Linked DNA regions of Homo sapiens. The protein of the gene in region 1 purifies or fractionates together with the protein of each later gene. This does not show direct contact. Each region holds a gene or a part of one and is shown in the gene's direction. Other genes may lie near its edges. The genes, in order: GDPD5, STX8, ROBO1 and ZMPSTE24.

Region 1 (8,042 bases):
AATTTTTTTGTATTTTTAGTAGAGACGAGGTTTCACCGTGTTAGCTAGGGTGGTCTTGATCTCCTGACCTCGTGATCCGCCCACCTCGGCCTCCCAAAGTGCTGGGACTACAGGCATGATCCACCATGCCTGGCCTATAGTATGTTTTAATCATGAAGTTTGAGAGTCTCTGGTTCCCCTGGGTCCTGAGGAGGGGAGGACAGAGATGCTCAGGACAGGGTGAGAGGGAGCCATTCACAGCAGGCTGGGTGCTGAGTAGATCTGGTGCTTATGTGGGGACCTTCCTCCTCCTCCCCAGTCTGCCAAAATCTCCTGTTTCCCAGAAATCTCTCCCAGGTGAGTGTTCAGGAGAAATTGAGGTACCCAGGAGGTGAGGGAGCAGGCTGAAGGGTTCTTGGGAGCTTTACAGTAAACAGGAGGCCCTTTCCCTGAGATGCCCCCCTTCCTGCCCCACCCACCGCCCTCTGTGAGGTGTTTTGGTCACAGCTCACACCTCCCCAGGCTGCCCTGAGCACACTGCACTGCTCTTCTGTCCTCGCCTGACTCCCCTGCCTCAGTGGCAGCAGCCCCCAGCCCAGGACCTGCACAGAGGAGGCGTCTGTCAGCGACCCAACCTGAGCCCCAGAGAGGAGCACTGGGTACCACACAGCCCCAAGGCAAGTTACTGGCTGGGCTGGGGCTGGGGCTTCTGCCTCCTACCAAGGCTCCATCAGCCTCTACCTGCCATCTGCTATGTCTACTTCATCACCTCTCCTGGTGAATTCAGACTTCTCTCCATGCACTGGCCCCAGCTTTATGGTTTTTCCTGGTGTCCAGCCTCTGTCCCTCCAGCAGCAGCTTAAGGAAGGCGCATTCACTGAGCACCTCCTGTGTGTGCCAGGCACTGCGTTCACCATAACAGCAGTAACCATCCTTTATTGGGTGCTGACCACATGTGTCAGGCACCTTTCACTCAGAATTTCACAGTCATTTCACTCCTCACAATAATCCTGTTCCCATATCATGCTCACTTTTTAAAATGATATCACTGAGATTTAGTAAGCATTTTCTTCTGGCCAGCCGTTGTACTAAGCATTTCACTTGCATTTCCTCACTGATCTTCCCCAACCCCCTTCCAGGTAGGTACTCACTATCCCTATTTCACAGCTCTGGAAAGGTCCCTGGAGAGGATGTGGAAAGATCCCCAGTAGGTAGCAGAGCCAGGATTCGACTGAAGACCGTGATTCAAGTGAGGCTCTTAACCCTGGGCCAGCTGTCTGCCATTTGGACTGCAAAACCCAGAGGCCAGATACCCCTAAGAGGCCAGCTGTTGCACCTCTGCAAGGCGGGGTTCCACCTCCTCTCGGGTCCCGGCACCTAGGCCAGACTCATCGAATGAATGAAAGACTCTGTTGTATCCCCTGTACCCACCATGGCTATCACAAGCCACAGTCCCATGAAGACAGAGAACCCAAGGCCACTTTCTCAGAGGAGGACGGTGATCTGTCTCTGGGCCTCTAGGGTGGGATTCATCCTTCTCAGTCAGATTTCAGGAGCGATGGTGGTTGCGTTTTTGGGTGTCAGTGCTATTGCTATAACTTAATGATGCAAGGTAGGGAAGTCCCACAGACACTGAACATGCAGTGATGCTGCTGAGTGTGTTGATTAGCACCAAAGCAACTGTGGAACTCAGAGATAATAACATTTTTAATTGTATTAGGGTTTGGGGAATCAGTTTTATTGCAAGTCGTTTCCATTAATAGGTATTGTGATGAGATGCTCCTGGAAACCATCCTTAACTCACTGTGTGCAGGGCCACCTCCCACGATGGCCACAAGGGGGAGCTGCGCGCCGGGGGCAGCCGGGAGAAGGGGCCTGAGTGCCGAGGGCGGGGTTCTCAGGGGTTCGGAGGCGCAGCTGGGCCTCCCAGAGACTGCGCAGCCTCTCTGACACCAGCGTGCTGTCTGTCCGAGAAAGCGCACACCCCCTTACCCCCTGAGATGGGCAGAAGGTGTTCGTTTCTGGTTCTGCCCCTTCAAAGCTCCGTGACCCAGCCAGCTGTTCCTCTCCCCGAACCTCGCTTCCCGTGTGTGAGATGAGGATGCTCGTGCCTCCGCGGAACCAACCTGGGGACCACGCGAAGCGCCCCCACAGGCCCAGGCACGCCCATGCCTCTTCCCGCCCCGAGCCCCCATGTCACAGCCCTTCCAGCTCCTCACCTGCCTCGCTCAGGTCTCTTGGGGGAACATTTGTTTCCAGGCTGATGGGCTGGAATGAAAAGCCTCCAAAGGGAAACTTCATCCCAGGCGAGACTCAGCATTCCCCGCCGGCGAGTGAAGGTCCCTGGGTAGGGAGCGGAGATGCTGGCCACCGCCCCACCCTCATCGTCTAGAAATGCCACTGTCCCTGCTCGGCATCAGAGGGCCCTGGCCGCTGCTGCCTCTGGGAAAGGTTGCCTCGGGAGAAAGGGGGTGAAGGCCCTGCCAGCAGCTAGAACGGCTCCAGGGAGGCAGGGCGGCCGGCAGTGCTGTGGGAGAAGGACAGGCCTTTGGAGGGAGATGGGAGACGAGTCTGGAGAAACTAGGGGGACGGAGGTGGCGGCTTTGACTGACCCTTCCAGAGACTGGGATCTGCGGGAGGCTTTGGAGGAGAGCCACAACCTGGGCTTCGGGGAGGCACGCCTGGGGGTGTGGAGGGGGGTGGGTGGAGTGAGATCCACGGCTAGGGGCGAGGGGCTGGGGGCCGAGGAGCCGAAAACCTCTGCCGAGCTTCACGTGGTTAAAGATTTCAGGTCTTACCTGTCACCAGAGATCTCTGTCCCGTAGAGGTGCCACCTCATCCTCCATGAGAGCTGTGCTTTGCTTTCTTCTGGAGGCTGCAAGGAGGATGGCCCCCATCACGGCGGACCTAGATGCTGGGAGTCCGGGAGAGGGCAGGCCGTGGAGATGGGGCAGGTGGCGATGTGTTTCACCACCCACTCCCGCCTGAAGTGCCACTGTGAGCCCAGCCCAGGGTGCCAGGCTGGGCTGCACTCCAGGCTCCTGCAGCAGACCCAGTTCCTCAGCCTCCTTCCCCTGAGGCCTGGGCATGGCCTGGACAAGTGGGTTTCCTCCTCTGCTGTGCCATGCTGAGGTGGCAGGGAGGCTGGGCGGGACCTTGGATGTGACTAACCTGCCAGGCCCAGGGAGGTCCCCCTTACTGAATGTCCTCCCTCCTCACAGTTCCCTCCTCCTCCTGTCCCCATCCTCCCTTCCATTTCTCGCTGTCCCTTCCTCGCTGGGTCTGCCGGCCTCCTGCTGCCTCCTCCTGCCTCAGTCTCTCCCTGCCGTGTCTATCTGCCGGCCTCTAGTTTCCTGGCAGCCCATGCCTGTCTCTTTCCTCCCTCCCCTCTGCCCTGCTCCATCGGCCTCTCCTGCCCTCTCTGTCTCTCCCTCTGGCTCCTCTCTCAGACACACTGGGAACCCTCCCACCCGCTCTGAGCCTCTGTCCGGTGACTCTTCCCCCTCCAGATCGGGCTGGTGGTCATCCTGGCTTCCACGGTGGTGGCCATGTCGGCCGTGGCCCAGCTGTGGGAGGACGAGTGGGAGGTGCTGCTGATCTCCCTGCAGGTGAGTGAGGAGGGTCCCCCAGGACCCTCACAACAAGAGCCTTTCTGTCACTTCCCTTTCTCCAGACCAAGGCCCAAAGAAGGGCAGGGAGGCGCCCAGGGTCACAGAGCAGGTCAGAACTAGGGAGGACACCAGGGTCCTGAGGCTCCCAGTGTCCCCAGTTGGCAGATGGAGACAGGGTTGCCTGCCTCATAGGTAGAAGTAGGAGGCTGGTGACACAGGGTCTGGGCAGAGCTGGGCGTTACTGGTCTCCCTTCCCTCTCCCTGCAAACAGGGCACAGCGCCATTCCTGCATGTGGGGGCTGTGGCAGCAGTCACCATGCTCTCCTGGATCGTGGCAGGACAGTTCGCCCGCGCAGAGCGGACCTGTGAGTAGAACTGTGAAGGGCCTGCCCCTCCAATCCCTGCAGGTGCCAAGACCAGCTGGTGCTGCCCCGACCTGGGCTTTCCCTGGGGGTGGCCTGGGGATGGGGTGGGGCCCCTGCACTCAGTGAGGGGGATTCTGGCTCAGAGTGGCCCACAGAGTCCACGGAGGGTCACAGCTTCAGTCGGCCTCACACTGTATTCCTCCTCCATGTCTCTCTCTCTGCATGTATGCACCTGTGTCTGTGTGAGTTAGAGGCGGGGTTCATCTTCCCAGCAAGAATAAGGGCTTCCCCCTAGAGCACCTGGATCCTGACAGGTCGGGGGTAGAGGGGTCCAGCATTGCACCCCAACCTGCCCAGGGCTCACCAGGCAGCACTCACGGCCCCTTATCTGCAGCCTCCCAGGTGACCATTCTCTGTACCTTCTTCACCGTGGTGTTTGCCCTCTACCTGGCCCCTCTCACCATCTCCTCTCCCTGCATCATGGAGAAGAAAGACCTCGGCCCCAAGCCTGCTCTCATTGGCCACCGCGGGGCCCCCATGGTGAGTGCCACCTCAGGGTCCTAACAGCCCCGTTGGGGTGGGGTGCGATGGGGGGGACCTTCTTGGGAAATGGATATATGTAATGGTAGCAACCATTTGTAGCTTTTTGAGGGGAGGTACATGGGAAGGACTGGCAAAAAGGCCGGGAGTGCTGGGATGGAAGCACATCTTGAAGCGTCCTGAAGGCATCTTGCTAAAAAGATTTCAGTTTTGTCCTAAGTGCCCTGCAAAGATGCAGGAGGGTTTTAGGCCCAGGCTAGACCCAGGTGCCAGTTAGGAAGGCCCAGGAGATGGATGCTGAGTGTGGGGCCTGGGGTCTGCCACCAGGCATCAGGAGAACCCTCCAGGAGAGCTGGGAGGCAGCTCAGAGCCCACTGTGACAGTGAGTACGGCTGAACCGACGTGAGTTGGAGAAAGACGAAGGGATCAAAGTCAGCGCCGCATTCTGCCACCAGTGCACTCCATAGCCCTGCAGGAGAGCTTCGGTGAGAGGGCAGGCTCCAGAGCCATGTTGCCTGAGTTAGCATCCCAGCACAGCTCCTCACCAGCTGTGGGAGGCCCAACAGTTTCCATCTCTTTGCCTGGTTCCCCCATCTTGTACCATGGGACTAGTGAGAGCACCTGCTGTGGGGCTATGAGGAGCAGGAGTTAGCATGTGTGCAGTGCCCAAATATGCACATGGTGCACAGAAAGTAAGAGGCAGACACTGCTGTTACCTTGGGCAGGGCCATCTCTCTGGAGCAGGGTCTCCTGCTCCATGAAAGCCTTGAACCCAGGCTTCTTAGCAGAGGTAGTACACACCCCCACCCTGCCAAGTGGGGGTGTGTGTGAGCACTTCCTGAGGGCTTGGCTTCCTGGTGTTCCAGGCTGTTGTGGGACCTCAGGGTAGTAAGGGGGTCTCACATAACTGCTTTGGAAGGAGGTGCTGGGTCTGCCGGGCTGCCACTCACTCTGGAAGTCTGGCCCCCTGCATGTGGTGGGTATTATTTTCTCGATAAGACTCCAGCCCCTGAGCCAGACTCCAGTGCTGACCCCAGTCCCTCCCAGAGGCAGCCAGTGGGGATCTGGATCTGGTGTCCAGTTTGGCCACATGCTGCCTGTGCATCTTGGAGGGGTCACCAGTCCCCTCTGTGCCTCAAAGGTATGGATGCCCATGCTGCTGGTTATTGTGAGGACCAATTGGAGCCCAGCCTTCCCAGTGGGGGCAGGGGAACTCTTCTGAGGGGCTTAAAACGATGGCCCCTCCTGTCTCCATGACTCAGATTACCATCTCCTGGGCTCCCTCCAGCAGCCAGGGGACATAAGTGGTATGCTGAAGCAGGAAGGTGGCCCCAGCGAGGATGGTTTTCTTTAGTAGAAAAAGGTCAAATATATGCAGAAGTGGAGAAAAGCATATAATGACTCACATAATGAAGAAGGATGTAATGAATCCAATCCCATACTTATCTACGTTTGGCCATTCTTGCTTCATCTGTTCCCTACTTTTTTTTCTGGGGTAGTAAAGCAAATCTTAGGCATCGCATCGTCTTACCCATAGGCACTTCAGGATGTATCTGTAACACATGAGGACTTCAGAAAGATGCATAGCAACAATGCTGTTATTACACCCAGCCAATATTAAGGATAATGATTCCTTAATATTATCTAAAATGGAATCCATGTTCAATTTCCTTTTATTGTCTCGAAAATATCTTTTTACAGTTTAGTTGTTAAAAATCAGGATCCAAATGTGGTCCACAGCACGCATCTGGTTGGCGTGTCTCCTGAGTGCCTTTTGATTTGTAACAATCCCCCGGCTGGGCTCAGTGGCTCATGCTTGTAATCCCAGCACTTTGGGAGGCCAAGGCAGGCAGATCACCTGAGGTCAGGAGTTCGAGACCAGCCTGATCAACATGGAGAAACCCCATCTCTACTAAAAATACAACATTAGCTGGATGTGGTGGTACATGCCTGTAATCCCAGCTACTTGGGAGGCTGAGACAGGAGAATTGCTTGAATCCGGGAGGCGGAGGTTGCAGCGAGCCGAGATTGCGCCATTGCACTCCAGCCTGGGCAACAAGAGTGAAATTCCGTCTCAAAAAAAAAAAGTTCCCCGTCCCTTTTTTCCCTTAAGCTGTTTATTTGTCCTGAGAAATGGAGTCATTTGTCCTGTGGGATTTTTCACATTCTGCATCTGACTGATCATGCCCTGGTGGTAGTTTTTGAGGGGCTGGCAAGGGTCCCCTCTGTGTGTCCCTGTGCATTGCCTTGGGGGGCTCTGACTCTGGGTCCACATGTCTGTGTGTGGTGAGCCCAAGTGCACATCTCTGTCTTGGAGACTGTCTGTGTGTCCCTGGATGTGTTGTTCCTATGCAGATGTGGCCTGTCCCTCTGTGCATGTGTGTACGTGTACTTTAATATTTGATTGCACTAACTCTGAAGCTAAGACTCTTTTTTAATAGTACTTTGAGTTGCTGTTTTATAAATCTGGGTCTCTTAACCATAGTGTCCCACCCACCTGAGTAACCACCACCCCCCTATGCACACCCTCCTGACAACAGAACCCCACTTGGACTGGCCTGAGGCAGGTGCGAGCTCTGAGACGGGGACTAAGAATTCACCCCAGCAACGTGTATGCTTCTGGGGCCTTCCTGGAGTCCTGAGCCTGGCCAGGGAGGGCCAGGTTTCCATATCTCTTTCTCCAGGAGGTCAGCACCTAACCCAGAGAGAACTTAACTGTGTCTAAAAGCTTCCAAAAAAGACTTTCCCCTTCCCAAACACTTCCTCTGCCCTGAGGGTCTTCGCAACCCCTTCCAAGCTTCTGCCTTCTGCAGCCCCAGCCCATGCAGCAGGGAGCGTGGACCCCTGTCAAGTGGTCCCTGATGGAAGGCCTGGCCGCAGGATATTCAGAGATGGGTGGGATTCCACTGAGTCCTTGCCTCTCTCTCCATGCCTTTGTAGTCCTGCTTCCCCTGGGAGTGCCTCACACAACCCACTGGACTGGGAGACAGGTAACATGTCCTCCAAGAGTGCTGTATGCCAGGGACAGGAGAAGAAAGAAACTCATTACTGAGACCCTGCTGTGTGCCAGGTCCTGGGCTAGGGTCTGTGACTTTTGTTATCTCACCTGTGAGGTTGATAATGTTAGCCCATTTTACAGCTAAAGAAACTGAGGCCCCAGCTCTGTGTCTGGGAAGTGAAATTGCACCTTTTTAGTCCGTTCCAAAGCCCTCACCACTCCCTGGCTCCCCAGTGCTAGGCTGTGTCACAAAAGAGGGGAGTGGCTGGGGAACATCGTGGCCAGAGGGAGAGAAGGTGGGAACAGGATTGTCTTCAGTGGGAATGAATGAGATCAGCCATGGGAATCCTTCCCACCTCACCTCTTCACTGACAGAGCAGGGCAGGGGGATCGGGGGTGTCCTCCCTCCCTCCTTCCCTCCGACCATCCCTCATGGACCTGGTCTTCGCCCAATCCTTGGTTTGGTGCTGACCCCCAGTGGCAGCAACGGGTATGACAGTCCTCAGATGAGACCCAACTAGGGAGGCTTGAATCCCAACTGTCCTAAGC
Region 2 (8,042 bases), on another chromosome or scaffold:
GACACCTCGAAGGGCGTGGGGGGCTTCCAGGTCATAAGTAGATTGAAAAATTTTCTGATTGGCAATTGGTTGAGTTATTATCAATAGAAACGAATGTCTGGGTTATGATAAGGGGTAGTGGAGACCAAGATTTTATTATGCAAATGAAGCCTCTGGGTAGCAGGCTTTAGAGAGAATACATTGTAAGTGTTTCTTATCAGACTTAAGGTCTGTATTGACGTTAATGCTGGTTGGCTTTTCCTGAATTCCAAAAAGGAGGAGAGGATATATAATGAGGCATGTCTGATCCCCTCTTCCCATCATGGCCTGAACCAGTGTTTCAGGTTAACTTTGGAATGCCCTTGCCTTAGAGTAGGGGTCCGTTCAGATGGTTGCGGGGGTGGGGGGGGGTGTTGGGGGTGGGCTTAGAATTTTATTTTGGTTTACAATACATATTCCTAAGTTGCCCTCCACCTTCTGGAACCTAAATCCCTCAGTTTACAAATCAAGTAGGAAATAAAGGTCAAAGATAAGGGACAGGCCCCCAGTTATCTATTTAGATTGGTGGAAGCTATCACTGGACCCCAAGCTTCTTCCGCAGTTAATGTTGATAAAGCATTGAGACTTTTTCTGTTATACTTCATTAGTTTGATGAAGTGGCTTTCTCATTGGACTATTGAGAGTGAAACAGTGAGACACTCAGCTGTGCTCCCAAAGCACAAAATGGGTCGCTGATTAGGGGGGTAGAAAGGAGTATGGGAAGGGACTTGAAAAACCTATAAAAGGCCAGGTGTGGTGGCTCACACCTGTAATCCTAGCACTTTGGGAGGCTGAGGCAGGCGGATCATAAGGTCAGGAGTTCGAGACCAGCCTGACCAACATGGTGAAACCCCGTCTCTACTAAAAACGCAAAAATTAGCTGGGCATGTTGGTGTGTACCTGTAATCCCAGCTACTCAGGAGGCTGAGGCAGGAGAATCACTTGAACCCAGGAGGTGGAGGTTGCAGTGAGCCGAGATTGCGCCACTGCACTTCAGCCTGGGCGACAGAGCGAGACTCCATGTCAAAACAAAACAAAACAAACAAACAAAAACAACCTATAAAAACAGATTCAACTACAGCTTTACCTTTGTGTTGCTAAAATCATAGGTCATTGGCACCTCCCTCAGTGTCTAGCAATGGAATATAGCAGTTACTATTTTAATGGCCTATCAAAGCAAGTGGTAAGCTCGCTGTTTAACAGAAGGAGCCCATGATCACTGTCTCTGAACTGGCTCTTTGCTAATGTTAATTAGCTTTACCTCCAGGGTAACTAATTTGTTGATGATGTACCATTTCCAGAAAAATTACAGTTAAACCTTAATAGTTTTATATCCTGATTGGACTTTTTATGTTGGTAGCATGGTCTTCTTTGTGTTGAATTGCTTTTTAAAAACTTTATTTTGGAAGGTAAAAGATACACAAACTAGAATAGTATAATGGGCCCCTTTCATACTCACCACCCAATTTCTGTGATTATCAATATTCTGCCATTCTTGTTTCATCTCTACCCTCCACACCTTTTTTTTTTTTAATTTTGAGATGGAGTCTTGCTCCGTCGCCCAGGCTGGAGTGCAGTGGCATGATCTTGGCTCACTGCAACCTCTGCCTCCTGAGTTCAAGTGATTCTCCTATCTCAGCCTCCCGAGTAGCTGGGATTACAAGCACCCGCCACCATGCCCGGCTAATTTTTGTATTTTTAGTAGAGATGGGGTTTTGCCATGTTGGCCAGGCTGGTCTTGAACTCCTGACCTCAGGTGATCACCCGTCTTGGCCTCCCAAAGTGCTGGGATTACAGGTGTGAGCCACTACGCCTATGCCCGGCCCAGATTACTTTTTTTTTTTTTTTTTTTTGAGACAAAGTCTTGCTCTTGTCCCCCAGGCTGGAGTGCGATGGCACAATCTCGGCAAACTGCAACCTCTGCCTCCCGGGTTCCAGCGATTCTCCTGCCTCAGCCACCCCCCGACCCAATTACTTTTTCTAAACTAGTACTTCAGGCACCTGTGTGCTTGATAGTGTAATGAGGTTGTCTATTGCCCCAGGCCAAGGGTTCCCGCCCGGACTTTACCGCAGATTGGAATCACTTGGAGAGCTTTTAAAGCTCCCCACGCACGCCCAGGACAAACCCCATACCAGTTGAGTCAGAATGCTGAGGTTGGGACCAGGCATTGTTATTTTTTTAAAGATTCCCCAGTGATTCCAACTTGTTTCAGAACTATTGCTCTTTAGGGCTAAAATAACAACACAAGGACTGGAGTCAGGACACCTGGGAGTTTGTGCTAGCTGTGTGCATTTCTCATAACCTCTTTAGGGCCACTCTCTGTGTGTAAAAGTGTTCTCTATGGCTCTGAAATTCTCCTTTAAGTCTAACCTTGTTAGACTGGTGTTCAAGGCTCTGCAGAAACTAGCTTCTACTCATCTCTACCATTTTATACTTAACAGGCTTCCAGGGCCACCACGCAGCCAAATGTGCCGGGCACGTTTCCTTCCATTCATCTTTGCTCGCCCTGTCTTTCACTAAGTCTAGAATGTGCTCCTCCCTCCTGTCTGAATAAGAGACCTGCTTTAACTTCGTGGTCATCCAGATGTAACCTCATGGACCCTCTCCATCTGAGTGCCTTGGTCAGCAGTAATCTCTTCCACCTCTGAACTCCAGACGTACTTACCACTTAGATCCCACATTTGGCAGGAGGCAAAACTTACCATATGTGGATGATTTTTATATGTATGGTCTGGACCCCAGAGCCAGACCTAGGCTCCTCTTTTCATGATAATATGGAGGAAAAAAAAGTGAAATGTGGCAAAGTTTGGACCAGGACCCAATTTTCCTTATTAGCCTCCTGTTTTCTTAATTCTGTGTTTTCTTGTATCACTGCTATTTTTCCCTACACACACAAATACATGAATATATATATATGAATGATATACATGTGACATATACGAATATATAGTATATATGATATAAACGATAGGTATGTGATATATATGAATATATGTATCAGTGATATATATGATATATGTGAATGTGTGTGATATATATATGATATATACATGAATGGTGCTGCTTTACAGTATAGTGGTTAGTGGTTCAGGATCCTCTCTCAGGATCCTTATGAAGTTTACAGTGTAAAGCTCTTAGTATAGGACCTGGCTCAGGTCAGGTACTCAGCTGTTACTATTGCTATAATTATTCTAGTAAGATTCCTAAGGGAATTGATGGGCGCATTTTCCTTCATTTAAAAAAAAACACTTATCAAGTTCCCTCAGTGTTCAAATGATATGTGGGAATTGAAAGGTTTTAAAAAATATATTGTTTACTCAAGCAAAAATTAGGACATTAGGGGCAACAGGAGTTTCTGATATTTTGTGATGGACTGGTCCTGGAAGATAATGCTGGTCATGTTAGTCCACAGAGTCTCTGCTTTTTAGGAGCAGACTGTCTGATAGGAGAAATGAAATGTGTATGCATGCTTAAGTATTTTCGTTTTTTTGTTCGTTTGTTTTTTTGAGATGGAGTCTCACAGTGTCGCCGGGCTGGAGTGCAATGGTGTGATCTCAGCTCACTGCAACCTTCGCCTCCTGGGTTCAAGCGATTCTCCTGCCTCAGCCTCCCAAGTAGCTGGGATTACAGGCACCCGCCACCATGCCTGGCTAATTTTTTGTATTTTTAGTTGAGACGGGGTTTCACTATGTTGGCCAGGCTGGTCTCGAACTTCTGACCTCATGATCTGCCCGCCTCGGCCTCCCAAAGTGCTGGGATTACAAGCGTGAGCCACCGCATCCGGTCTGCTTAAGTATTTTCTATATGATAGAAAGTAAAAATGCTCTGAGAGAAGCAAAACATAAGGGGCTATTGGGAGTTCACCGTGAACCCTTCAAAGCCTCCAACGCTGCTGAATGACAACTAGAAGCTTATTAAATGTTTTGAGAGAATTCTGGCAAGCTCAGATGTCAGGTGGGTGTGTGGCCTTTGTCCCCGGAGCATTTGGTTTTAGGCTAGACAATACTTGCTGTTCCTGCACCCTAGAGCCGCCCCCAGGCATCTGCAAGCCCAGCTTCTTCACCTTGCCTCGGTGTCACCTGATCCTAAGTAGCAGCTCCTTATCACTCTCTGTCCCTTTATCCTGCTGCGTTTTTCTTCTTAGCACCTATCAACACCTGACATACTATGTATTTAATTGTTTTATGACTTTCTTTCCTTAAAATATGAGCTCCTTGAAAGAGGGACTGTGTTCATTCTGTTTACTGCCGTCTTCTCCAGTGCCCAGAACAGTGCCCAGTGCAGCGGAGACCCCCCACATGCTTTCTCATTGGCAGAACAGCACAGTTGTTAAGAGCCCCGGCTCTGGGGCCAGACGGCCTTGGTTTGCAGCAGGCAGAACCACTTGGGCAAGTCACTCTAACTCTTTGTGCCTCCTTTTCTCATGTGTGAGTTGGAGATGGTAATGGTACCCACTTCATAGCGTTCCTGTTTTGATTAAGTGAGTTATTACTAACGAAGCCTTCAAAATAGTGCCTGGCACATGGTAAATAACGCTCAGTCCATGTTGCTTTTACTGGTCATGTTATTATTCTTCCCCTCTGTTTGAATTCTTTGGCTAGAATGAAAATGTCAAACTTAGACAATGCAAAAATTTCTTTTAAAGAACCTTAAGGCCAGGTGCAGGGGCTCACGCCTGTAATCCCAGCACTTTGGGAGGCCGAGGGGGCGGATCACGAGGTCAGGAGATCGAGACCATCTTGGCTAACACGGTGAAACCTCATCTCTACTAAAAATACAAAAAATTAGCCAGGCATGATAGCGGGCGCCTGTAGTCCCAGCTACTGGGGAGGCTGAGGCAGGAGAATGGTGCGAACCCAGGAGGCAGAGCTTGCAGTGAGCTGAGATCGTGCCACTGCACTCCAGCCTGGGCGACAGAGCGAGACTCCGTCTCAAAAAAAAAGAACCTTAAACATTTTCTCTTTTTACGACTTTGGTGCAGGTTCTCCACATACGATTCTACTTGTCAAATTGCCCAAGAAATTGCTGAGAAAATTCAACAACGAAATCAATATGAAAGAAAAGGTGAAAAGGCACCAAAGGTAATACCATGAAGGAATTAGTACCCAATGATTTGTTTGAGTTTTGAGGCCTGAAAACCCTCCTATCTTTCTTTGAGGCTGTCTGTGCACATGTGTGTATGATGATCTATCTGCTTACATATGTTGAATTGACATAACACCCAACCAGTTAGTAGTGATGTAATCATTGAGACTAAATGAGGCATAACACATTTAAGTTCTCCTGTTTTACTTTAAATATTTCTAACAATTTTATAGTCTAGTTCAGGGGTTAGTAAACTTCCTACAGATAATAAATCTTTTAGTCTTTGCAGGCCAAGAGATAATGTCTTCAAGTCTTTGAGTTTCCATTCTCACCACAAGAATAGTTATAGTTTTTACATTTTACATTAAAAATGTAAAAACAGGCCAGGCATAGTGGCTCACACCTGTAATCCCAGCACTTTGGGAGGCTGAGGCGGGCAGATTGCTTGAGGTCAAGAATTCGAGACCAGCCTGGGCAACATGGGGAAACCCCATCTCTACTAAAAATATAAAACCTAGCCAGGCGTGGTGGCACACACCTGTAGTCCAGCTACTCAGGAGGCTGAGGCAGGAGAATTGCTTGAACCTGGGAGGTGGAGGCTGCAGTGAGCTAAGATCGTGCCACTGCACTCCCGCCTGGGCAACAGAGTGAGACCCTGTCTCAAAAAAGAAAAAAATGTAAAAACCATCTTTAGTTTTGGGCTGTATAAAAACAGTGGTGGGATTTGGCTAAGAAATAGATTTTTGTGAAATCACAAGTTTATACTTGTGACTATGATTGAAAATAGAAGCCTCTGATTCAAATCTAACACCACACCTTTCTTCCTTATTTTCCACATTCCAAATTTGTATTTTCTTTCTCTCACACTGAGAATCCTAGTTTCCAAAAGCATCAGTATGTTTTTACTCATTTGGTCTATTTTACAGTTTACAGAAAATGGTTTCAAAATTACTATAAGGTACCACGACAAACACTGAGTTCAAAATTTGAGTCTTTTTAAGTGTAGACTAATCTACTAAGAATGCTGAGGTTATTATGTTCCAAAGTTATTAGAATTATTTTTTAACTTTCAAGTTCAGGGGTACATATGTGGGTTTGTTGTATAGGTAAGCTTGTGTTATGGGGATTTGTTGTACACGTTATTTTGTCACCCAGGTATGAAGCCTAGCACTTACTATTTTTCCTAATCCTCTTCCTCCTTCCAGCTTCCTCCCTCTGCTAGGCCCCAGTGTGTGTCATGTCCCCCTATGTATCCATATGTTCTCACCAGTTAGCTCTCTCTTATATCAACAGAGTGAACAAACAACCTACAGAATGTGAGAACATGCGGTATTTGGTTTTCTGTTCCTGCATTAGTTTGCTAAGGATAATGGCCTTCAGCTCCATTCATGTTCCTGCAAAGGACATGATCTCGATCTTTTTTATGGCGGCATAATATTCCATAGTGTATATGTACCACATTTTCTCTGTCTGGTCTACCATTGGTGGGCATCAGGTTGATTCTATGTCTTTTGTTATTGTGAATAGTGCTGCAGTGAACATACACATGCATGTGTCTCTTTTTTTCTCTTTTTTTTTCGAGACGGAGTTTTGCTCTTGTTGCCCAGGCTGGAGTGCAGTGGTGCAATCTCGGCTCACTGCATCCTCTGCCTCCCAGGTTCAAGCCATTCTCCTGCCCCAGCCTCCAGAGTAGCTGGGATTACAAGTGCCTGCCACCATGCCTGGCTAATTTTTGTATTTTTAGTAGAGATGGGGTTTCGCCATGTTGGCCAGGCTTGTCTCGAACACCTGACCTCAGGTGATCCACCCACCTCGGCCTCCCGAAGTGCTGAGATTACAGGTGTGAGCCACCCCACCTGGCCACATGCATGTGTCTTTATGGAAGAATGATTTCTATTCCTTCGGGGATATACCCAATAACGGGATTGCTGAATCAAATAGTATTTCTGTTTTTAGTACGTTGAGGAATTGCCACACCGTCTTCCACAATGACTGAACTGATTTACACTCCCACTAACAGTGTATAAGTGTTCCTTTTGCTCTGCAACCTCCCGAGCATCTGTTATTTTTTGACTTTTTAGTAATAACCATGCTGAGTGGTGTGAGATGGTATCTCATTGTGGTTTCGATTTGCACCTCTCTAATGATCAGTGATGTTGAGCTTTTTTTCCTGTTTTTTTTGGCAGCATGCCTGTCTTCCTTTGAAAAGTGTCTATTCGTGTCCTTTGTCTGCTTTTTAATGGGGTGGATTTTTCTTGTAAATTTGCTTAAGTTCCTTATAGATACTGGCTATTAGATCTTTGTCAGATGGATAGCTTGCAAATATTTTCTCACAATGTGTAGGTTGTTTGTTCACTCTGTGGATAGTTTCCTTTTCTGTGCAGAAGCTCTTTAGTTGATTAGATCCTATTTGTCAATTTTTGCTTTTGTTGCAATTGCTTTTGATGTCTTTGTCCTGAAATCTTTGCCTGTTCTTATGTCCAGAATAGTATTGCCTAGGTTGTCTTCCAGGGTTTTTATAGATTTAGGTTTTACAGTTAAGTCTTTAATCCATCTGAAGTTAATTTTTGCATGTGGTGTAAGGAAGGAGTTCAATTTCTATCTTCTGCACGTGGTAGCCAGTTATCCCAGCACCACTTATTGAATAGGGAATCCTTCCCCCATTGCTTGTTTTTGTCAGCTTTGTCAAAGCTCGGATAGTTGTACGTGTGGCCTTATTTCTGGGTACTCTATTTTTTTTTTTTTTTTTTTTTTGAGACGGTGTTTCTTCTCACCTAGGCTGGAGTGCAGTGACATGATCTCAGCTCACTGCAACCTCTCCCTTCTGGCTTCAAGTGATTCTTGCATCTCAGCTACCCGAGTAGCTGGGATTACAGGTGTGTGCCACCATGCCCAGCTAATTTTTGTATTTTTATTAGAGAGAGGGTTTCGCCATGTT
Region 3 (8,042 bases), on another chromosome or scaffold:
CTAGGGCCAGGCACTATACTAGAAACTTTTCACACATGAACAATTTCAAATCTAACCATATCTCATTTTACCAGTGAAGAAACTGAGGCAGTGAATGTGAAGATGTGTACCCAACTTACAATGATAAGTAGCAGAACTGACATGTTTGCACCCTCCAATAAGGTAGCTACTTACCATATGGGGCTATTTAAATTTGAATTTAAATTACTTAAAATTAAATACAATTGCATATCCAATTCCCCAATTACTCTAGCTACACTTACATGTTCAGTAGTCACTTGGTGCTGTTGGCTACTGTATTGGAGAGAGTAGATATGGAACATTTCTGTTGTAGATATGGAACATTTCTGTTGTATGGTGCTAACATTTTCTGACTCCAAAGTCCGTGCATTTAATCACTTTGTTAAACATTTCTGATTCTTACACTTCCTATTTTATTTCTGGATAATTCATTCTAATAATTCCAACAGAAGATCCTAGACCTGAATATAAGGTTTGTCTCCTTCTAAATTAAGATTTGACTCATAAATGCAGTACATTCTTTGGTGTCTGTAAGTGTAAACATTTTACGAGTATTTTATTCTACTTCATGACATCAAAAACTTTCATTTCTCTACCTGGAAACATCAAATTGCTTTAATAAACCCTTAAATATTTCTCTTTTTTTTTTTTTTTTTTTTGAGACAGGGTCTCACTCTGTCACCCAGGCTGGAGTGCGGTGGCCTGATCAAAGTCCACCACTGCAGACCTAACCTCCTGGGCTCATGTGATCCTCCCACCTCAGTCTGTCAAGTTGCTGGGACTACAGGTGCACACCACCATGGCCGGCTAATTTATTTTTATTTTTATTTTTATTTTTGTGGAGATGGGGTTTTGCCATGTTACCCAGGTGGGTTTTGAACTCTTAGGCTTAAGCAATCCACCTTACTTGGCCACCCAAAGTGCAGGATTACAGGCGTGAGCCCCAGTGCCCGGCCAAATCTTTCATCTCTGATTTACATAATAGTTTTTTTTGTTGTTGTTGTTGTTTTTACCAAAGAGGACACTAGTGATACTACAGTACATAATATGTCTAGCCTTTTGCAATTAGCCAAGCACTCCCTTATCTGTTCCATTTAAATATGCATAACAATACCCTGCCTGAGCTATTTAGAAAAAAATATTATTATGCTTAGTTGATGGATTTAAAAACAATACAAAACTGAGGCTTAGAGAATTTAAGGAACTTGCCCAAAGACATATGGCAGATGCTAGAGCTGATCTTTTTCTTTTATTGCTTTATTTTTGTTAAGTATACATTGTAAATTATACCACAAAAATGGCATCAATAACTGGTTTGGGATGGAATGGGGAGGTGTGGATGACACTAAATAAAATACAAATATCAAAGAACCATAAAGATAGAGAACATTGAATATATTCCCAGATATTGGATTGTTTCTAAATATGATAAGACTACCAAATTTAAACCATTCTTCTACTGGACTTAATTATAATCAGTTATAAAGAATATTCCTTCTGCCAAGTTTCAAACTCTAGCCTTCTAATTCACCCCTTGATATTGCAAATTTCACCCTGGTAACCAAGACAAAGAAGAGAATTGGAAGAGTAGAGTGGAAATGCACAGCTGCTGATTTCACTCCATTGCTTTCCTGTTTATCTTTTCTTTTTTTTTTTTTAGTTTGCATGCACAAAACTAATATTTATTGCATGACAAATGAGGAGCAAATTGAAGTGTGACTCCAGCTTGTGAAAATCTTTGGTGCATAAAGCTTGGAACATGACAGATCCAGCTTTGAAAATTATTGCTTCCAAAATTTAGTTACTCTGACAACCACTTTTCTTTAACCAGGCAACTTAGAATCTTTCTTTGTACATTTGTGTCTTTTAAAAATTTTTCATTAACATCCAGAATTTTCAAGTTGAATATTTAAAGAAAATTTCTGAAATTTGGTTTTTAAGTCATTAAAAAAAAACTATAGAGTTTCATATAAATTGCCTAAGTCAGGGGATGGGAACACCTCTTCAATGTAGGATTTATTCTAGTTCCAACACAGTTGTTCTATGTTTTCCCCTAAAAAAGACTTCATGTCAGATAAAGTTTTTAGATTTTAGATTTTTTTCATGTAATCATAGGGTTAATTGTATTTACACATAATAAAATTGCCTCTCGTTGTTATTTTCCGTAGTATGTTATAACTATTATCTAAGGTAACGGAGTTAGCAGAGGCACATTCCCAATCCCATTAATCCCAATAGAGAAGTATGGTGTTTGCCAAGTTAGAACATCATTTTGACTTGTCTCTTTGGATCAGCCAAACAACAATGTATTTGGGCAATTTTCCAATTTCTTTGAATTCATTACAGTTGGGTAATTTTCTCCCATGTATATTGTAATAGAAAGAATTACAAGATAAAAAGACACAGGGAACTCAATCACACTGATTTATTAAATTACGAAATCCAATGCACTTTTTTGGATCCAAAATTGTTAAACATGCTGGTATGGTACCTTGTTTCTTTTTTTCTGTTGTACAAGTTATGAAATGTCAATTTGGCTTTGCTTCATTTATTAAAATTTATCTCATATGTTTCCTTGAGAGGAATGGTCTTTTTGTTATGTTGTGTTTTTTCATGTTTTTGAGTTTAAAAAGTACAGTATTCCATGATCACGTCTCTGTATCTACTTCACCATCCACAATCCTAATTCCCGAACTCTTTAAATAGGCCTCTTGACGATGCAGCCAGCTCAGTGAGTGGCTGGTCATTTGAAAGTAGCACATTGTGTCTCATTTTAGTATTCTGAATCAGTGCATCATATAAATGCATTTTGAATAATGCATGTCTGCTACTTTAATTACTTGTTTAATTATCTTTAGTTTGTTTCAAAGCCTAGAACAACTGCTGTTGCTTGGATGATTAGAAAATTGCTTCCAGTTGCAGAAATCTATTTCCTGTTGTTTCTTCTGGCAGTGATTGCAGATCGGCCTCCCCCAGTTATTCGACAAGGTCCTGTGAATCAGACTGTAGCCGTGGATGGCACTTTCGTCCTCAGCTGTGTGGCCACAGGCAGTCCAGTGCCCACCATTCTGTGGAGAAAGGATGGAGTCCTCGTTTCAACCCAAGACTCTCGAATCAAACAGTTGGAGAATGGAGTACTGCAGATCCGATATGCTAAGGTAACTTGGAATGGCACCTTGCGTTTCTTGTTTTGTTTCACTTTGTTTCTGCCTCCAACAACTGGCATTGAAATTTCTAACTTTGCAATTAATGAAGTGTTAAATGAAGAGTAGTAATATATTTTTAATTTGATGTTTTATTTTTTTCAGATATTTCATTGTATATGTTTGAGATGATTTAACTCATAATTTAGTCCATGGCAGGTAATTTAAGGTTGTATGGAGGAGAAGAAAGGATTTCTAAGAACCTACCGAGGAAAGTAAATGAGGGTTTGTGAGAGAATAAATATCTTCAAAGTAGTGGTACGAAGCAGTCCTTCCATAAAGCATCTTTTAAGATATTTACCTGTATCATTTTATGTGCAATATATTTAGATAGTTCTTCTATTGTAAGTGTTTGTTTCAGCATTTTGCAATGGCAAAACTATACATGCAAACAAAAGCCATAAAGCAATGTACACACCGAGTGTACAATTCAAATCAGAATGCTCAATGATGGAAAGCCCACAGGTCTGTAGGAACCATTTAAGGATTTACTTTCACAGGGCATCATATCCCATGCCTGCTCTTTCAGGACTTTATTGTTTTGATTTTTCTTCTTTTTTTATGTCAAGATCAGACGAGCTCCTGAGGCATATGAAAGAATAGTCCTGACAGCAATAAACATGAATTTCAGTTGCTTTATCTCCTAGTGTGGGTGGTTCCTTTGGAGTATTGGATCAGCATCACAGTTCACTTTAAGTGCCACAACAGTTAATATGTTGTGCTGCTTTGTGACTGTTGTGACTTGGTTCCTGCAATTGCCAGGGCAAGATGACAACATTCTTTCTTTATCAAATGTTACTTGAAGATAGTTATTAGCTTGAGCAGAAGTAGATGGGTTTATTATCCTGCTGCTGATTTCAAAGTTGAACATGTAACCTATGTTTGCCTTCTGACATTCAGTTTTTAAAAGGGAGCGAGAGTGTTCGTTCCAGCTTGAGTTTGGCTTTGTACTTCTTAAACTGCCTTAAGTTACAAGTTTTAAAACCCGGAAAAGTCAGTAGTTTAAGAAAAAAATTCTATGATGCCTATCCTTTTTCTGTTGATCTCATATATCCATATAGTTAAATATATAAGTAAAATATGAAATAGCAAGAATAGGCATTGGTTAAACTTTATCAGCCTTATTATATAACTTATTAAACATAAAGATATATCTTAGCCATAAATATTAACGCTCTAAATTTGAAGAATTGTATGCCTTACCTTAGGAATTATTGTCCCTGAGACTGATGATAATATATGCTAATGCAATTAAATATTTCTTATTATACCATTAGAACAATCATATAAAATCTTTTTTTCTATATTGATGTAATATTTTCCTTCACATTCAATAAAAATATATTCAACTAAGGGGAAGTTTCTGGTTAGTGAATTTTAATGCAGTTATCCATATTCATGGATCATATACAAACCTGTAATTGCTTTTCCAGCCCAGTGAGTTCTTGATTTTTCCAAATATTTATTTTTTGTCTGCCTTCTCAGCTGGGTGATACTGGTCGGTACACCTGCATTGCATCAACCCCCAGTGGTGAAGCAACATGGAGTGCTTACATTGAAGTTCAAGGTAAAGTAAATGGTGTGTTTCCCTTAAAGTGAAGCTTAAAATGCAGTTGTTTACTTACTGGGATATTGATGAAGTAAATGTCCTCTTCCCTGAGTAGGTGTATGAATATGTTATCTGCATTTATCCGCTTATCTGTGTATGTGTAAACATCTTTTATTTTGGCCTTTTTCCTGCTTTTTAGAATTTGGAGTTCCAGTTCAGCCTCCAAGACCTACTGACCCAAATTTAATCCCTAGTGCCCCATCAAAACCTGAAGTGACAGATGTCAGCAGAAATACAGTCACATTATCGTGGCAACCAAATTTGAATTCAGGAGCAACTCCAACATCTTATATTATAGAAGCCTTCAGGTAGAGTGAAGGAGATGCTTCCTAGTTGTTCTTTTTTGATTCTCCATTAAATACGCATGTTCTAACCTGTGTGTCTATCCTTAGCCATGCATCTGGTAGCAGCTGGCAGACCGTAGCAGAGAATGTGAAAACAGAAACATCTGCCATTAAAGGACTCAAACCTAATGCAATTTACCTTTTCCTTGTGAGGGCAGCTAATGCATATGGAATTAGTGATCCAAGCCAAATATCAGATCCAGTGAAAACACAAGGTAAATATTGATTTACTTAAACCTGTGACACCTACTTATCCTTAGATGTTATAATTGCACTGACAAATCACTTGTGCTACATGCTAGAATTGTACATTTACAGTGTGTTGTTCAAGTTGCCCAAGTTGCTTAATTAATTTTTAATATACAAACACAATGTCTACAAACTTTATTATTTTCTGGACTAAGCATACCAACATAAGATGGATTAACAAAGAGAACTGTTTCTCATAAAATTACAAATATATCAAGACAAAAATATTACGTGAGGAGATGGAAAGTAGAATGATGGTTACCAGAGGCTGGGAAGGGTAGTAGGGTGGCTGTGGGGAGGGTGGGGATGGTTAACGGGTACAAAAAAAAGAATAGTTAGATCTAATGAATAAGATCTAGTATTAGATAGCAACAAGGTGACTGCAGTCAATAATAATTTATTGTACATTTTTAAATAAAGTATAACTGGAATGTTTGTAACACAAACAAAGGATAAATGATTGAGGTGATAGATACCCCATTTACCCTGATGTGATTATTATGCCCTGTATGCCTATATCAAAATACCTCATGTACCCATAAATATATACACCTGTTAGTACCCATAAATTTTAAAAATATGTGAATATTTGTGTATTCTATTCAATTTCCTGAATTTTAAATATGGTAACATGTAGGTGTACAATCTTAATCATATTATAATTGTATTTAAAATTAACCAAATTTTATTTATTTATAAGTTCAGTACTCACAACCTTCTGGATGAATTTTTAGATTACAACCCTAATCAAATAATACTCTCTTGAGATCACATAAATATGAGAGATATCTGGATACCTTTTATTTTTGGAAAAAAATCACGTCATTGTAAATAAAATGTGCTTGTTTTTATATTAGTAAAGAAAGGTAATTCTAGAGGGGAGTGATTCGAACTATAAAATTATTTTCTCAACATACAGAGGGATAGTGTTTCTATCTTAAGGGAACAAAGGAAAAAAGAAAAAAAAATAGACTTGGTTATTTTAATAGAAACAAGTTATACACAAGATGACTGAGACTTAAAGTCCTTTGCTGCTGGTTTGGGAGAGGGGTCTGCCAGCCATGTTGCTGTTTTGTTACTTCAAGTATGTACAGAAACAGTCTTTTTGGAAGCACTTTTTGTTTCAGAATTTGCAGAAAAAGCACACCAAGTTGTAGAACATGCCCACGTTTGTCTCTTGTGTGAATGTAACACACCCATAGCTCATATTTGCTATTATGAATCACCTCTCCAGGAGCTTTACTATACTTGCAGCCTGCCTTAAGGCAGTCTGAGGTTTTTGATATTAGATACACATTTGTAAAGAATGTAGACCCAATGATAGCTATAAAATGAATTTAAACTTTTGTCCCCAGTACAGTGGTCTCCAGCCAGTAGACTCTAACTGAAAGGTTTTGATGACTAGAGCTTAACACCGTTTTGTCCTGTACTCACATGCATGATTCTGGAATATGTAACCTCATTTGTAAGTGAGCAGTAAGTTAGCATTCTGTCTGAACATTCATTTAGTCTTTTTAACATTTCTGTCAATTTGCCTTTGCATATGCATAGCTAGTGGAACAATGTATTAGTCTCTTCTCACGCTGCTAATAAAGAACTTCCCCGAGACTGGGCAGTTTATAAAGGAAAGAGGTTTAATTGACTCACAGTTCAGCATGGCTGGGGAAGCCTCAGAAAACTTACAATCATGGCAGAAGGGGAAAGAAACACGTCCCGGTTCACATGGTGGCAGCAAGAGGTGCCGAGCAAAAGTGAGCAAAGCCCCTTATAAAACCATCGGGTCTCCTGAGAACTCACTCACTATCACGAGAACAGCAGCACGGGGTAACTACTCCATGATTCAGTTACCTCCTACCGAGACCCTCCCGTGACACATGGGGATTAGGAGAACTACAGTTCAAGATGAGATTTGGGTGAGGACACAGCCAAACCACATCACTCTAAGTATAATGAATCCTTGTTAACTGGAATACTGGAAATATAGAGAAACAGGCATACAGTTGTGAAATCAAAGACTTTTTTTTTTTAAATTTCAGCTCCTCAATCCACTAGCTGTGTGACCTTGAGCAAGCTAGTCAGCCCTTCTGAGTTTCCTCACCTATAAAATGGGGCTAAACATACCCATTCCTCGGGATTGGACAAAGAATACATTAACCAATCAATATATAAGTATATAAGATTCAGATTTGTTTTCTGTTTTATCCCATAAAATCTGTTATTGGACTTGTATTTCTTTTAGTGTCAGGACTAAAAGTAAAGGAAGTTCATAAAATTTGTGGATGTCGTAAAACTGAGAAAGACAGCTAGTATGCCAAATAAGAGAATCAGAATTAAATATAACTCAACAGATTGGACTGATGGGAGAGTGCTAACTATTAAAGTTAATAGAGCAAATTAAAAAGTCTGGTACTTGAACTTGGGTTTAAAAAATTAGCTGTAAAAGGATAGACTAAAGACAGCAGGCTTACGGGAAGTATATGTGAGTGTGTCAGGGCTTTCGGAGTGATCTGACTTTAAAATAAAACACCCATCTGAACCGACTGACGGATACAGTTGCCAAGAGAACAAATGTAGTCTTAGCTGGCACTAGAATTATGCCTGGATCAAGTAATTTTT
Region 4 (8,042 bases), on another chromosome or scaffold:
AATTTACTTCTTGGAGAGACAGTCTGTCTGGTTGTTTTCATTTTCATATTTTTGTAACACAAAAGAGGGTACCACACTTACAAGTCCCAGAATGCTTTCTTAACCTTTGTTATTGATAGTAACGGCTGTGGAGCAAAAAAGACAGAAACATAACTGCTTAGTCAGTTGAAAACTATAGAATATGGGAACTATTACCCTGAAGCCAGGTAGGAAAAAGATCCTCTTCCATTAGGATCCAGCTGAGATGTCATGTCTTCTAAGCAACCATTTGAAACTCCCTGCCTGACGAATGTGGATAGGGTAGCATTCTATCATTATTCCTGTCAGAGTACTTATCTCATTATGTTGAATTTGCCTGGATTTTTTTTTTTTTCTTCTGGCACAGTCTTGCTCTGTCACCCAGGCTGAAGTACAGTGGCGTGATCTTGGCTCACTGCAACCTCTGCTTCCTAGGCGCAAATGATCCTCCCACCTCAGCCTCCCGAGTAGTTGGGACTACAGTTGCATGCCACCATACCGTCTCAGAGTGCTGGGATTATAGGCATGAGCCACACTGTACCTGGCCTGATTTGACTGTTTAATTGGCAGACTGGTAGTTCCTTAAAGAAATAGTTAAGTCTTGTTCATCATTTTATACCTAGTGCCTGGCATGTAATCAGCATATAGTTCCTATTTATTGAATGAAATAATGTGGGGTTTTTTTGTTGCTTTTTTTGTTTTGTTTTGTTTTTGTTTTTGAGCAGTGTCTTGCTCTGTCGCCCAGGCTGGAGTGCAGTCGCACGATCTTGGCTCACTGCAATCTCCACCTCCCGGGTTCAAGCGATTCTCCTACCTTAGGCTCCTGAGTAGCTGGGACTACAGGCGCGTGCCACCACACCTGGCTAATTTTTTGTATTTTTAGTAGAGACGGGGTTTCACCATGTTAGCCAGGATGGTCTCGATCTCTTGACCTCGTGATCTGCCTGCCTTGGCCTCCCAAAGTACTGGGATTACAGTCATGAGCCACTGTGCCCTGCCACTTTTATTTTTATCATCCTGATCATCATCATCATCATTTCTCTAGAACTTTTAGATCTACTAGTACCACTAAGAGAAAGATTCCTAAATTTAAAAGAATTATGATCAGCTACCATCATTGTTTCATGAGTTAAAGAAACTGGCTTTATGTAGCTGTGGTAAATGACAGAATTGTCTAGCTCATCACAAAATTTTTCTTAACAAGTATGGAATAATAAGACTAGTGTGGTTAGATCCAAATTATTAGAAACTGCACTTATTTCTTCAAGGTGATGGAAAATGGCAATGCTTCTAGAAGAGTTAAATTTTGGTATTTAGAAAAATTAATAAATGATTTGGAAAACAAAGTCTCATTGGCTTTGGGGATACACAGCTATTGCTATTAAGTAATCTTTTCAATAAAGACTTGGCTTTAGTTAATTTATCTGAGCATTGCTTCTGTTAGGGACATGTCACAAGTAGGAAATCATCCTTCAGAGACAGATGGAAGTAGAAGTGGTTAATTTAGACACTATTCTTTTTTTTTTTTTTTTAAATAGATGAAAGAGAGTTTACTTATGTATTTATATAATGGCCTTGGTCCAAAAAAGACTAAAGGGAGCTCAAAAAAGAATTATAGTAACTTTAAAAAATACATTAAACATATCCAAGATCTTAAATGTATCATTCTCCCCAAAAGCTAGTTGCTTCCAAACTTGACTTAATATTTTGCATGTTTTCCCTCCATTGCTTGGTAAGTGTATTTGCCTCTTCTTTCTGCAGTTGATGTCTGACGGCTGAGTTTTGCTGTTTTGTCAACTGACATTTCCCCTTCTGTTTCACCAGTTCCAGAGAATTGTTGAACAACTTAACAACACTACCTGAAGAAGTAATACTCAAGAGTTCTTGTTCTATACTGATTAATAGCTCCCATATTTTCTTCATCTCTGAAAAGTCTGAATTCTCTGTTTAATAATGACAAGGCAATTAGATGAGGTAGACACTATTCTCTTTCTGATGTTTGCTTCTTGGAAGTCCTTTGACTTTACCCACTACAGGGCCATAGTAAAATAATAGGAAAAGCATTTTCAATCTCCTTGGTTGTCCCTGGTAAATAGTGCCAGGAAAGATAGACAGTAGCTTGGTAATTATGGTTGGTGACCATAGGAATGGCTGTTTGTTCTAGGGGATGACAGAAATAGGGAGAATACATATATAAAGTGAGAGCTTTGTAATGTACTGTGGCTCAAACTAGAAGCAGTACTGATGGGCTAAGGTTGGGAACAGTAATAGTTAATAGTCGTCATGATTTTCACTTCATACATAGTTTTTATATGTATTGTTTGATGTTTACAACAGTGAAGTGGAAAGGATAGGCATTATTATTCCCTTCTTATGAATGAGGAAGCAAAGGCTTGGATAAATTAAAGGGTTTGCATGTTTAATTGCCAAGGGACATGCTAATAAGTAGGATAACTGGGTTTCAAACTCTGTTCTGCTGAGTCTTTAAAATGACATTGAAAAATCCATTCTTGAAACTCTAAAGACTGCAACATGAATGTGCTAAATTTATCTCTGGGGATTTTCTGGCTGCATTTATGCTTGGCAGGAAGAATATTTTGGGTAACTTTGAAACCTTGTTTTGTTTGGAAACAAGTTCATTAATTTCTATTTTGTGTTGATTAGAATTAATAGGTTTGTATGTTTTGGTCACAGAGATCAAGTGAGAAGATTAGCTTCGACTTTTTTTTTTTTTTTTTTTGCCGTAGTACTTTCTACCTGAGGGAACCTAAATAGAGTCATTGTGTGGCCATTTATGGTTGCCACTGTTCACATAAATATGACACTGCACCCAGACAGAAAATTCCAGCCTCTCTGAGACACTTTCTCTAATATCTCACAGATATCAATAAAGGGCCCACTGAAGAAATGGAATGGCTGGGGAGCAGAGTAGGTCAGGGTCGAAAAGTTTAAATTGTTGCTTCTCTAATTTTTGCATGTTTCTATGTGAGCAGTTTCACCTTCTTGAGCCTAAGTTTTCTCATCTTTAAAATGAGAAGTGGGCTGGGTACGGTGGCTCACGCCTGTATTCCCAGCACTTTGAGAGGCCGAGGTGGGGGCGGATTACCTGAGGTCAGAAGTTTGAGACCAGCCTGACCAACATGGCGAAACCCTGTCTCTACTAAAAATACAAAAATTAGCCTGGCGTGTTGGCACATGCCTGTAGTCGCAGCTACTCAGGAGGCTGAGACACAAGAATTGCTTGAACCCGGGAGGTGGAGGCTGCAGTGAGCTGAGATTGCAACACTGCACTCCAGCCTGGGTGACAGAGTGAGACTCCATCTCAAAAATAAATAAAAATAAAATAAGAAGTGTGTGGATGTTAAGCCATACCTTGTATGGTTTGTGGCAAGGACTAAGTGAGTGAGATAGCGTAAATGAAGCTCAATGCGTAGGAATTACTTAGTCATTGGGTTTCTTTGGACAAGTTACTTCAACCTCTCAGTTAAAGTAACCTTTCAGTTAAAGAGTTTCAGTTGCCTCATCTATTAAATAGAGATGATTATACCCTTTTCCCTGCCTGTTTTTCAAGACTGTAGTAGTGAAGCCAGGCATGATGACTCAATCCTGTAATCATAGCACTTCGAGAGGCTCAGGTGGGAGGATCACTTGAGCCCAGGAGTTTGAGACCAGCCTGGGAAACATAGTGATACCCCATCTTTGCAAAAAAATTTTTAAAAAATCAACTGAGTGTGGTGATGTGCACCTGCAGTTCTAGCTACTTGGAGGCTGAGGTGGGAGGGTTGCTGGAGCCCAGGAGATGGAGGCTGCAGTGAGCTGTGATCACACTGCTGTACCCCCGCCTGGTGACAGAGTGAGATCCTGTCTCAAAAAAAAAAAAAAAAAAAAAAAGAATGTAGTGAAATAATATATGTCAAAGCGCTGGAATTATTTTTTCTGGGATCATTAATTTTGCCATAGAACAACCCTGGGAGCATGCTTAGTGAAATTGTCAACATAGAGACATTGTACAGTTCACCATGCTTTGTTTTTCAGTCCCCAAAAGAAACTAAACATGCTTTGTTTTTCAGTCCCCAAAAGGTTTGCAGTATCAGTTTTCAAATGCATTTATAGATCATTCAGAATTCATATTAAAACTACCCTTGATGCTTATTTAAATACTGGACTTTTAATAATAGTTGCTGTGGCCTTTACTAAAAGCATTATAAGTCCTTAATTATACATTATTTATTAGTATTGGGAATTGGCTGAAAGAAATACCATCCCAGGTCAATTAGATCAACAACTACAGCATATGTCAGACAGTGGTACCAAAGCATGTCTTTTGGGAAAACAAGGTTTATGTCTAAGATTGAATTAGTTGTAGTAAAGTGGAAATACCTGGAGGTAGTGTTAGGGGAGCCTTTTGAAAAGCAATTTATTGGGGCTGAGTGCAGTAGCTCATGCCTGTAATCCCAGCACTTTGGGAGGCCACAGTGAGAGGACTGCTTGAGGCCAGCCTGGGCAACATAGTGAGACCCCATCTGTACAAAAAATTAAAATTAGCCAAGTATGGTGGTGCATACAGTCCTGGCTACTTGGGGGGCTGACATGGAAAGATCCTTTGAACCCAGGAGTTCAAAAATTCAGTAAGCTATGATCATAACACTGCTCCCTAGCCTGAGTGACAGAGTGAGACTCTGTCTCTTAAAAAAAGAAAACAATTTATTAAAGCAATGATTTTCAAACTTTAGTGTACATCAGGTTTACCTAGAAACTGCTGGGCCCCACTTCCAGCTTCTGATTTGGTACATCTGGGGTAGGGCCTGAGACTTTGCATTTCTAAGAAATTCCCAGATGCTGTTGCTGCTGTCCAGAGACCATATTTGAGACCCATGATATTAAACCAATCCAATGTACTGGTAACAGTCTAAAAGATGGATAGTTTAAAGTGTGGGTGAGATTGTGGGAAAACAGAAACACTGGAGTACTGCTGATGGGAGTGTAATTTGTTATAAACACTTTAGGAAATATCCTGATAATACCAAATAAAGTTGAAGTCCACCATGGATGGATCTAAGAAAATTTAGAATATAAAAAGCAAATCATAGACTGATAAGTATAATATGATGTCATTTATATACATTCTTTAAAAGCATACATAAATCACTATATTATTTGTAGATACATGTATGAAAATGGGAATTAGATTGGAAGGGTACCCATGAAATATGATAGTACCAAAACCCCTCAAACCATGAGGAACTATGTCTGAACCAGTGGGAATATTGTGCTTCTAGTCAAGGAATGTGATTGATCATTGTGTTCCTAAGCTGCTGTCCTACAGAGAGAAAAAATAAATTGATTCCTCTTGACAAATGAGTTCCACAAAGTTGTATGTGTTTTGGGCGGTAGAATTCTTAAACATGCATTCTTCTCAAATTTTGAGCTGCTTCCTAGCTCCTAATGTCCTGGTTATTTAGTGAATGTCTGTGTTCACTTTATCTGCCCAAGACCAAGACAAAGGGTGGTGCTGAGGAAGAGCCTTCTCCTGTGAAAGCCGGGCCCCTACCTCACCTCTTCCTGACCCAGCAAAGACACAGATAATCCCATTCTGTTCCCCAGTTTAGTAAGTGGACATGACTCTCCACTTCTGTGCTTTGTTCTGATGGAAAAGGACTATTTTCTTTCACAGAAAAGACAATTATGGAGCCATATTAATGTGGTTCAAATTCCATTTCTATCACTCATTAGCTGTTGGATTTCGAACAAGTTTTTTTTTTTTTTTTTTTTTTTTTTGAGACAGGGTCTCATTCTGTCACCCAGGCTGGAGTGCAGGCACGATCATGGCCCACTGCAGCCTCGACATCCCAGGCTCAAGCAATCCTTCTACCTCAGCTCCCCCGAGTAGCTGGGACCACAGAATCATGCCACCATAATTGGCTCATTTTTGTATTTCTTGTAGGGACAGGTTTCACCATGTTGTCCAGGCTGGTCTCGAATTCCTGAGCACAAGCAATCTGCCTGCCTTGGCCTCCCAAAGTGCTGGGATTACAGGCATATGCTACCATACCCAGCTGTTTAACCTTTCTAAGTTTAGTTTGTGATTTTGTTGTGGTCTTTTGACAAAAGGTTTTTTTTTGTTTTGTTTTAGAACAGCTTTATTGAGATAATTCATGTACCATACAATTCATATACCATACAATTCATCCATATATAGTGTACAGACAAAAATGTTATATTAACCACCTAAATTTAGTATCTCAATGGTTAGTACTCATCTAAATGCATAATTTATGCTAAATGTGAAATAGGTCTATTTTTTAAAAAAATATTTTATTTTGTTATTTTATTTTATTTTATTTTATTTTATTTTATTTTATTTTATTTTATTTGAGACAGGGTCTCAGTTTATTGCCTTGCTGGAGTGCAGTGTCACAATCACGGCTCACTGGAGCCTTGACTTCCCAGGCTCAGGCAATCCTGTCACCTCAGTCCCCCAAGTAGCTGGGTCTACAGGTACGCACTATCAGGCCCAGCTAATTTTTAAATTTTTTGTAGAGATGGGGTCTCAACTCACCTTGTTGCCCAGGCTGGTCTTGAATTCCTGGCCTCAAGCGATGCTTCTGTCTCAGTCTCCCAAAGTGCTGGGATTACAGGCATGAGCCACCGTACTGGCCTCTTTTGTTTTTTTAATAGAGATGATTATTTTGTCCTTTCTTTCTTTATACCATGCTTTCTCATATGATAGTTTCTAGTACTGTTCAACTGTGATCAAAGTATGCTTTGTTTTATAGCTTATTCTTCTCTTTGGAGGAATACCTTATCTCTGGAGACTTTCTGGACGGTTCTGTGGTTATGCTGGCTTTGGACCAGAATATGAGGTATGTGATTCATTAGCATGTATTTGTCATGGTATTTCTTTTAGCTTGGCAGGCTTTCCACTAAAGTTAATTTTTTGGCTTCTGCCAATGTTAAGATTTGCCTCTCTGTTTGCATAGTCCTTGGTTACCCATGCTGTATTGGCATAACATTAGTTACAATAACAAATCCCAGAATATCACAGGCTTATTTGCAATGGTTTATTTCTCAATCACGTAATAGTCCAGTGTGAGTATTTTTAGTTATCAGGTGACTTTCTTCCATGTGGTAAGCCAAGAATCCAGGCTCTTTATCTTAGGGATTTGTCTGTATGATTTAAGGTACCTTTCATATAGTGCCTGTGTAATAAAAAAGGAATTGTTTTGTTTCTCATTTACTTCTCTCAAAAGTAAACTTTTTTGAAGGCAGGGATGATATTTCAGACCTTATGTTATCCATAGAATCAAGCATATTGCTTGGGATGTAGTAAGTAAGTGCTCAGCAAATACTTGTTGATTTGTTTGCCAGTAGTTCATAAAAACTGGATTTTTGTTTTTTCTTTTGTTTAGATCACTCAGTCCCTGGTGTTTCTGCTGTTGGCTACACTTTTCAGTGCATTGACTGGTTTGCCATGGAGTCTTTATAATACTTTTGTGATAGAAGAAAAACATGGCTTCAATCAACAGGTATAATAAAGAATACAAATGTTCTCTTTTAAATGTGAAAAACTTCTGTGCTTTTGTCCTGTACTGTTTATAATTTAAACATAATTTACTATTTCAGAGTATGAATTGAGAAAAAAGGGAACTACAGATATGGTAAAGATCATAGCTGAAAGTCTTGGGGGCCGCGGTGGCTCTGGCCAGTTGCCCTGGCACTCGGGGAGGCAAGGCTACATGTTCGAGGCCAACCTGGTCAACACTGATTTTAAAAAAAAAATACTTAAGGCCAGGCCCAGTGGCTCATGCCTGTAATCCCAGCACTTTGGGAGGCTGAGGCGGGTGGATCCCAAGGTCAGGAGATCGAGGCCATCCTGGCTAACACCGTGAAACCCGTCTCTACTGAAAATACAAAAAATTAGCCGGGCTTGGTGGTGGGCGCCTGTAGTCCCAGCTACTCGAGAGGCTGAGGCAGGAGAATGGCGTGAACCCGGGAGGCAGAGCTTGCAGTGAGCTGAGATCTCG

The links.
Region 2: the proteins of GDPD5 (region 1) and STX8 purify together in Homo sapiens (co-immunoprecipitation; 3 studies listed by BioGRID and IntAct, with this or other methods). This does not show direct contact.
Region 3: the proteins of GDPD5 (region 1) and ROBO1 purify together in Homo sapiens (co-immunoprecipitation; 3 studies listed by BioGRID and IntAct, with this or other methods). This does not show direct contact.
Region 4: the proteins of GDPD5 (region 1) and ZMPSTE24 purify together in Homo sapiens (co-immunoprecipitation; 3 studies listed by BioGRID and IntAct, with this or other methods). This does not show direct contact.

What each region holds. Positions count from the first base shown.
Region 1 is NC_000011.10:75,445,430-75,453,471, reverse strand, and holds part of GDPD5 (glycerophosphodiester phosphodiesterase domain-containing protein 5), read left to right. Parts: intron 1-501; coding exon of another isoform or gene 502-656; intron 657-1,140; exon of another isoform or gene 1,141-2,139; intron 2,140-2,238; exon of another isoform or gene 2,239-3,079; intron 3,080-3,488; coding exon 3,489-3,587; intron 3,588-3,861; coding exon 3,862-3,955; intron 3,956-4,349; coding exon 4,350-4,495; intron 4,496-4,822; exon of another isoform or gene 4,823-4,980; intron 4,981-8,042. UniProt on the Homo sapiens protein: Glycerophosphodiester phosphodiesterase that promotes neurite formation and drives spinal motor neuron differentiation.
Region 2 is NC_000017.11:9,565,429-9,573,470, reverse strand, and holds part of STX8 (syntaxin-8), read left to right. Parts: intron 1-3,533; exon of another isoform or gene 3,534-3,915; coding exon of another isoform or gene 3,916-3,973; intron 3,974-5,000; coding exon 5,001-5,100; intron 5,101-8,042. UniProt on the Homo sapiens protein: Vesicle trafficking protein that functions in the early secretory pathway, possibly by mediating retrograde transport from cis-Golgi membranes to the ER.
Region 3 is NC_000003.12:78,665,233-78,673,274, reverse strand, and holds part of ROBO1 (roundabout homolog 1 isoform a precursor), read left to right. Parts: intron 1-2,973; coding exon 2,974-3,179; intron 3,180-4,709; coding exon 4,710-4,791; intron 4,792-4,972; coding exon 4,973-5,141; intron 5,142-5,225; coding exon 5,226-5,392; intron 5,393-8,042. UniProt on the Homo sapiens protein: Receptor for SLIT1 and SLIT2 that mediates cellular responses to molecular guidance cues in cellular migration, including axonal navigation at the ventral midline of the neural tube and projection of axons to different regions during neuronal development.
Region 4 is NC_000001.11:40,260,992-40,269,033, forward strand, and holds part of ZMPSTE24 (CAAX prenyl protease 1 homolog), read left to right. Parts: intron 1-1,847; exon of another isoform or gene 1,848-1,971; coding exon of another isoform or gene 1,972-1,992; intron 1,993-6,794; coding exon 6,795-6,881; intron 6,882-7,427; coding exon 7,428-7,544; intron 7,545-8,042. UniProt on the Homo sapiens protein: Transmembrane metalloprotease whose catalytic activity is critical for processing lamin A/LMNA on the inner nuclear membrane and clearing clogged translocons on the endoplasmic reticulum.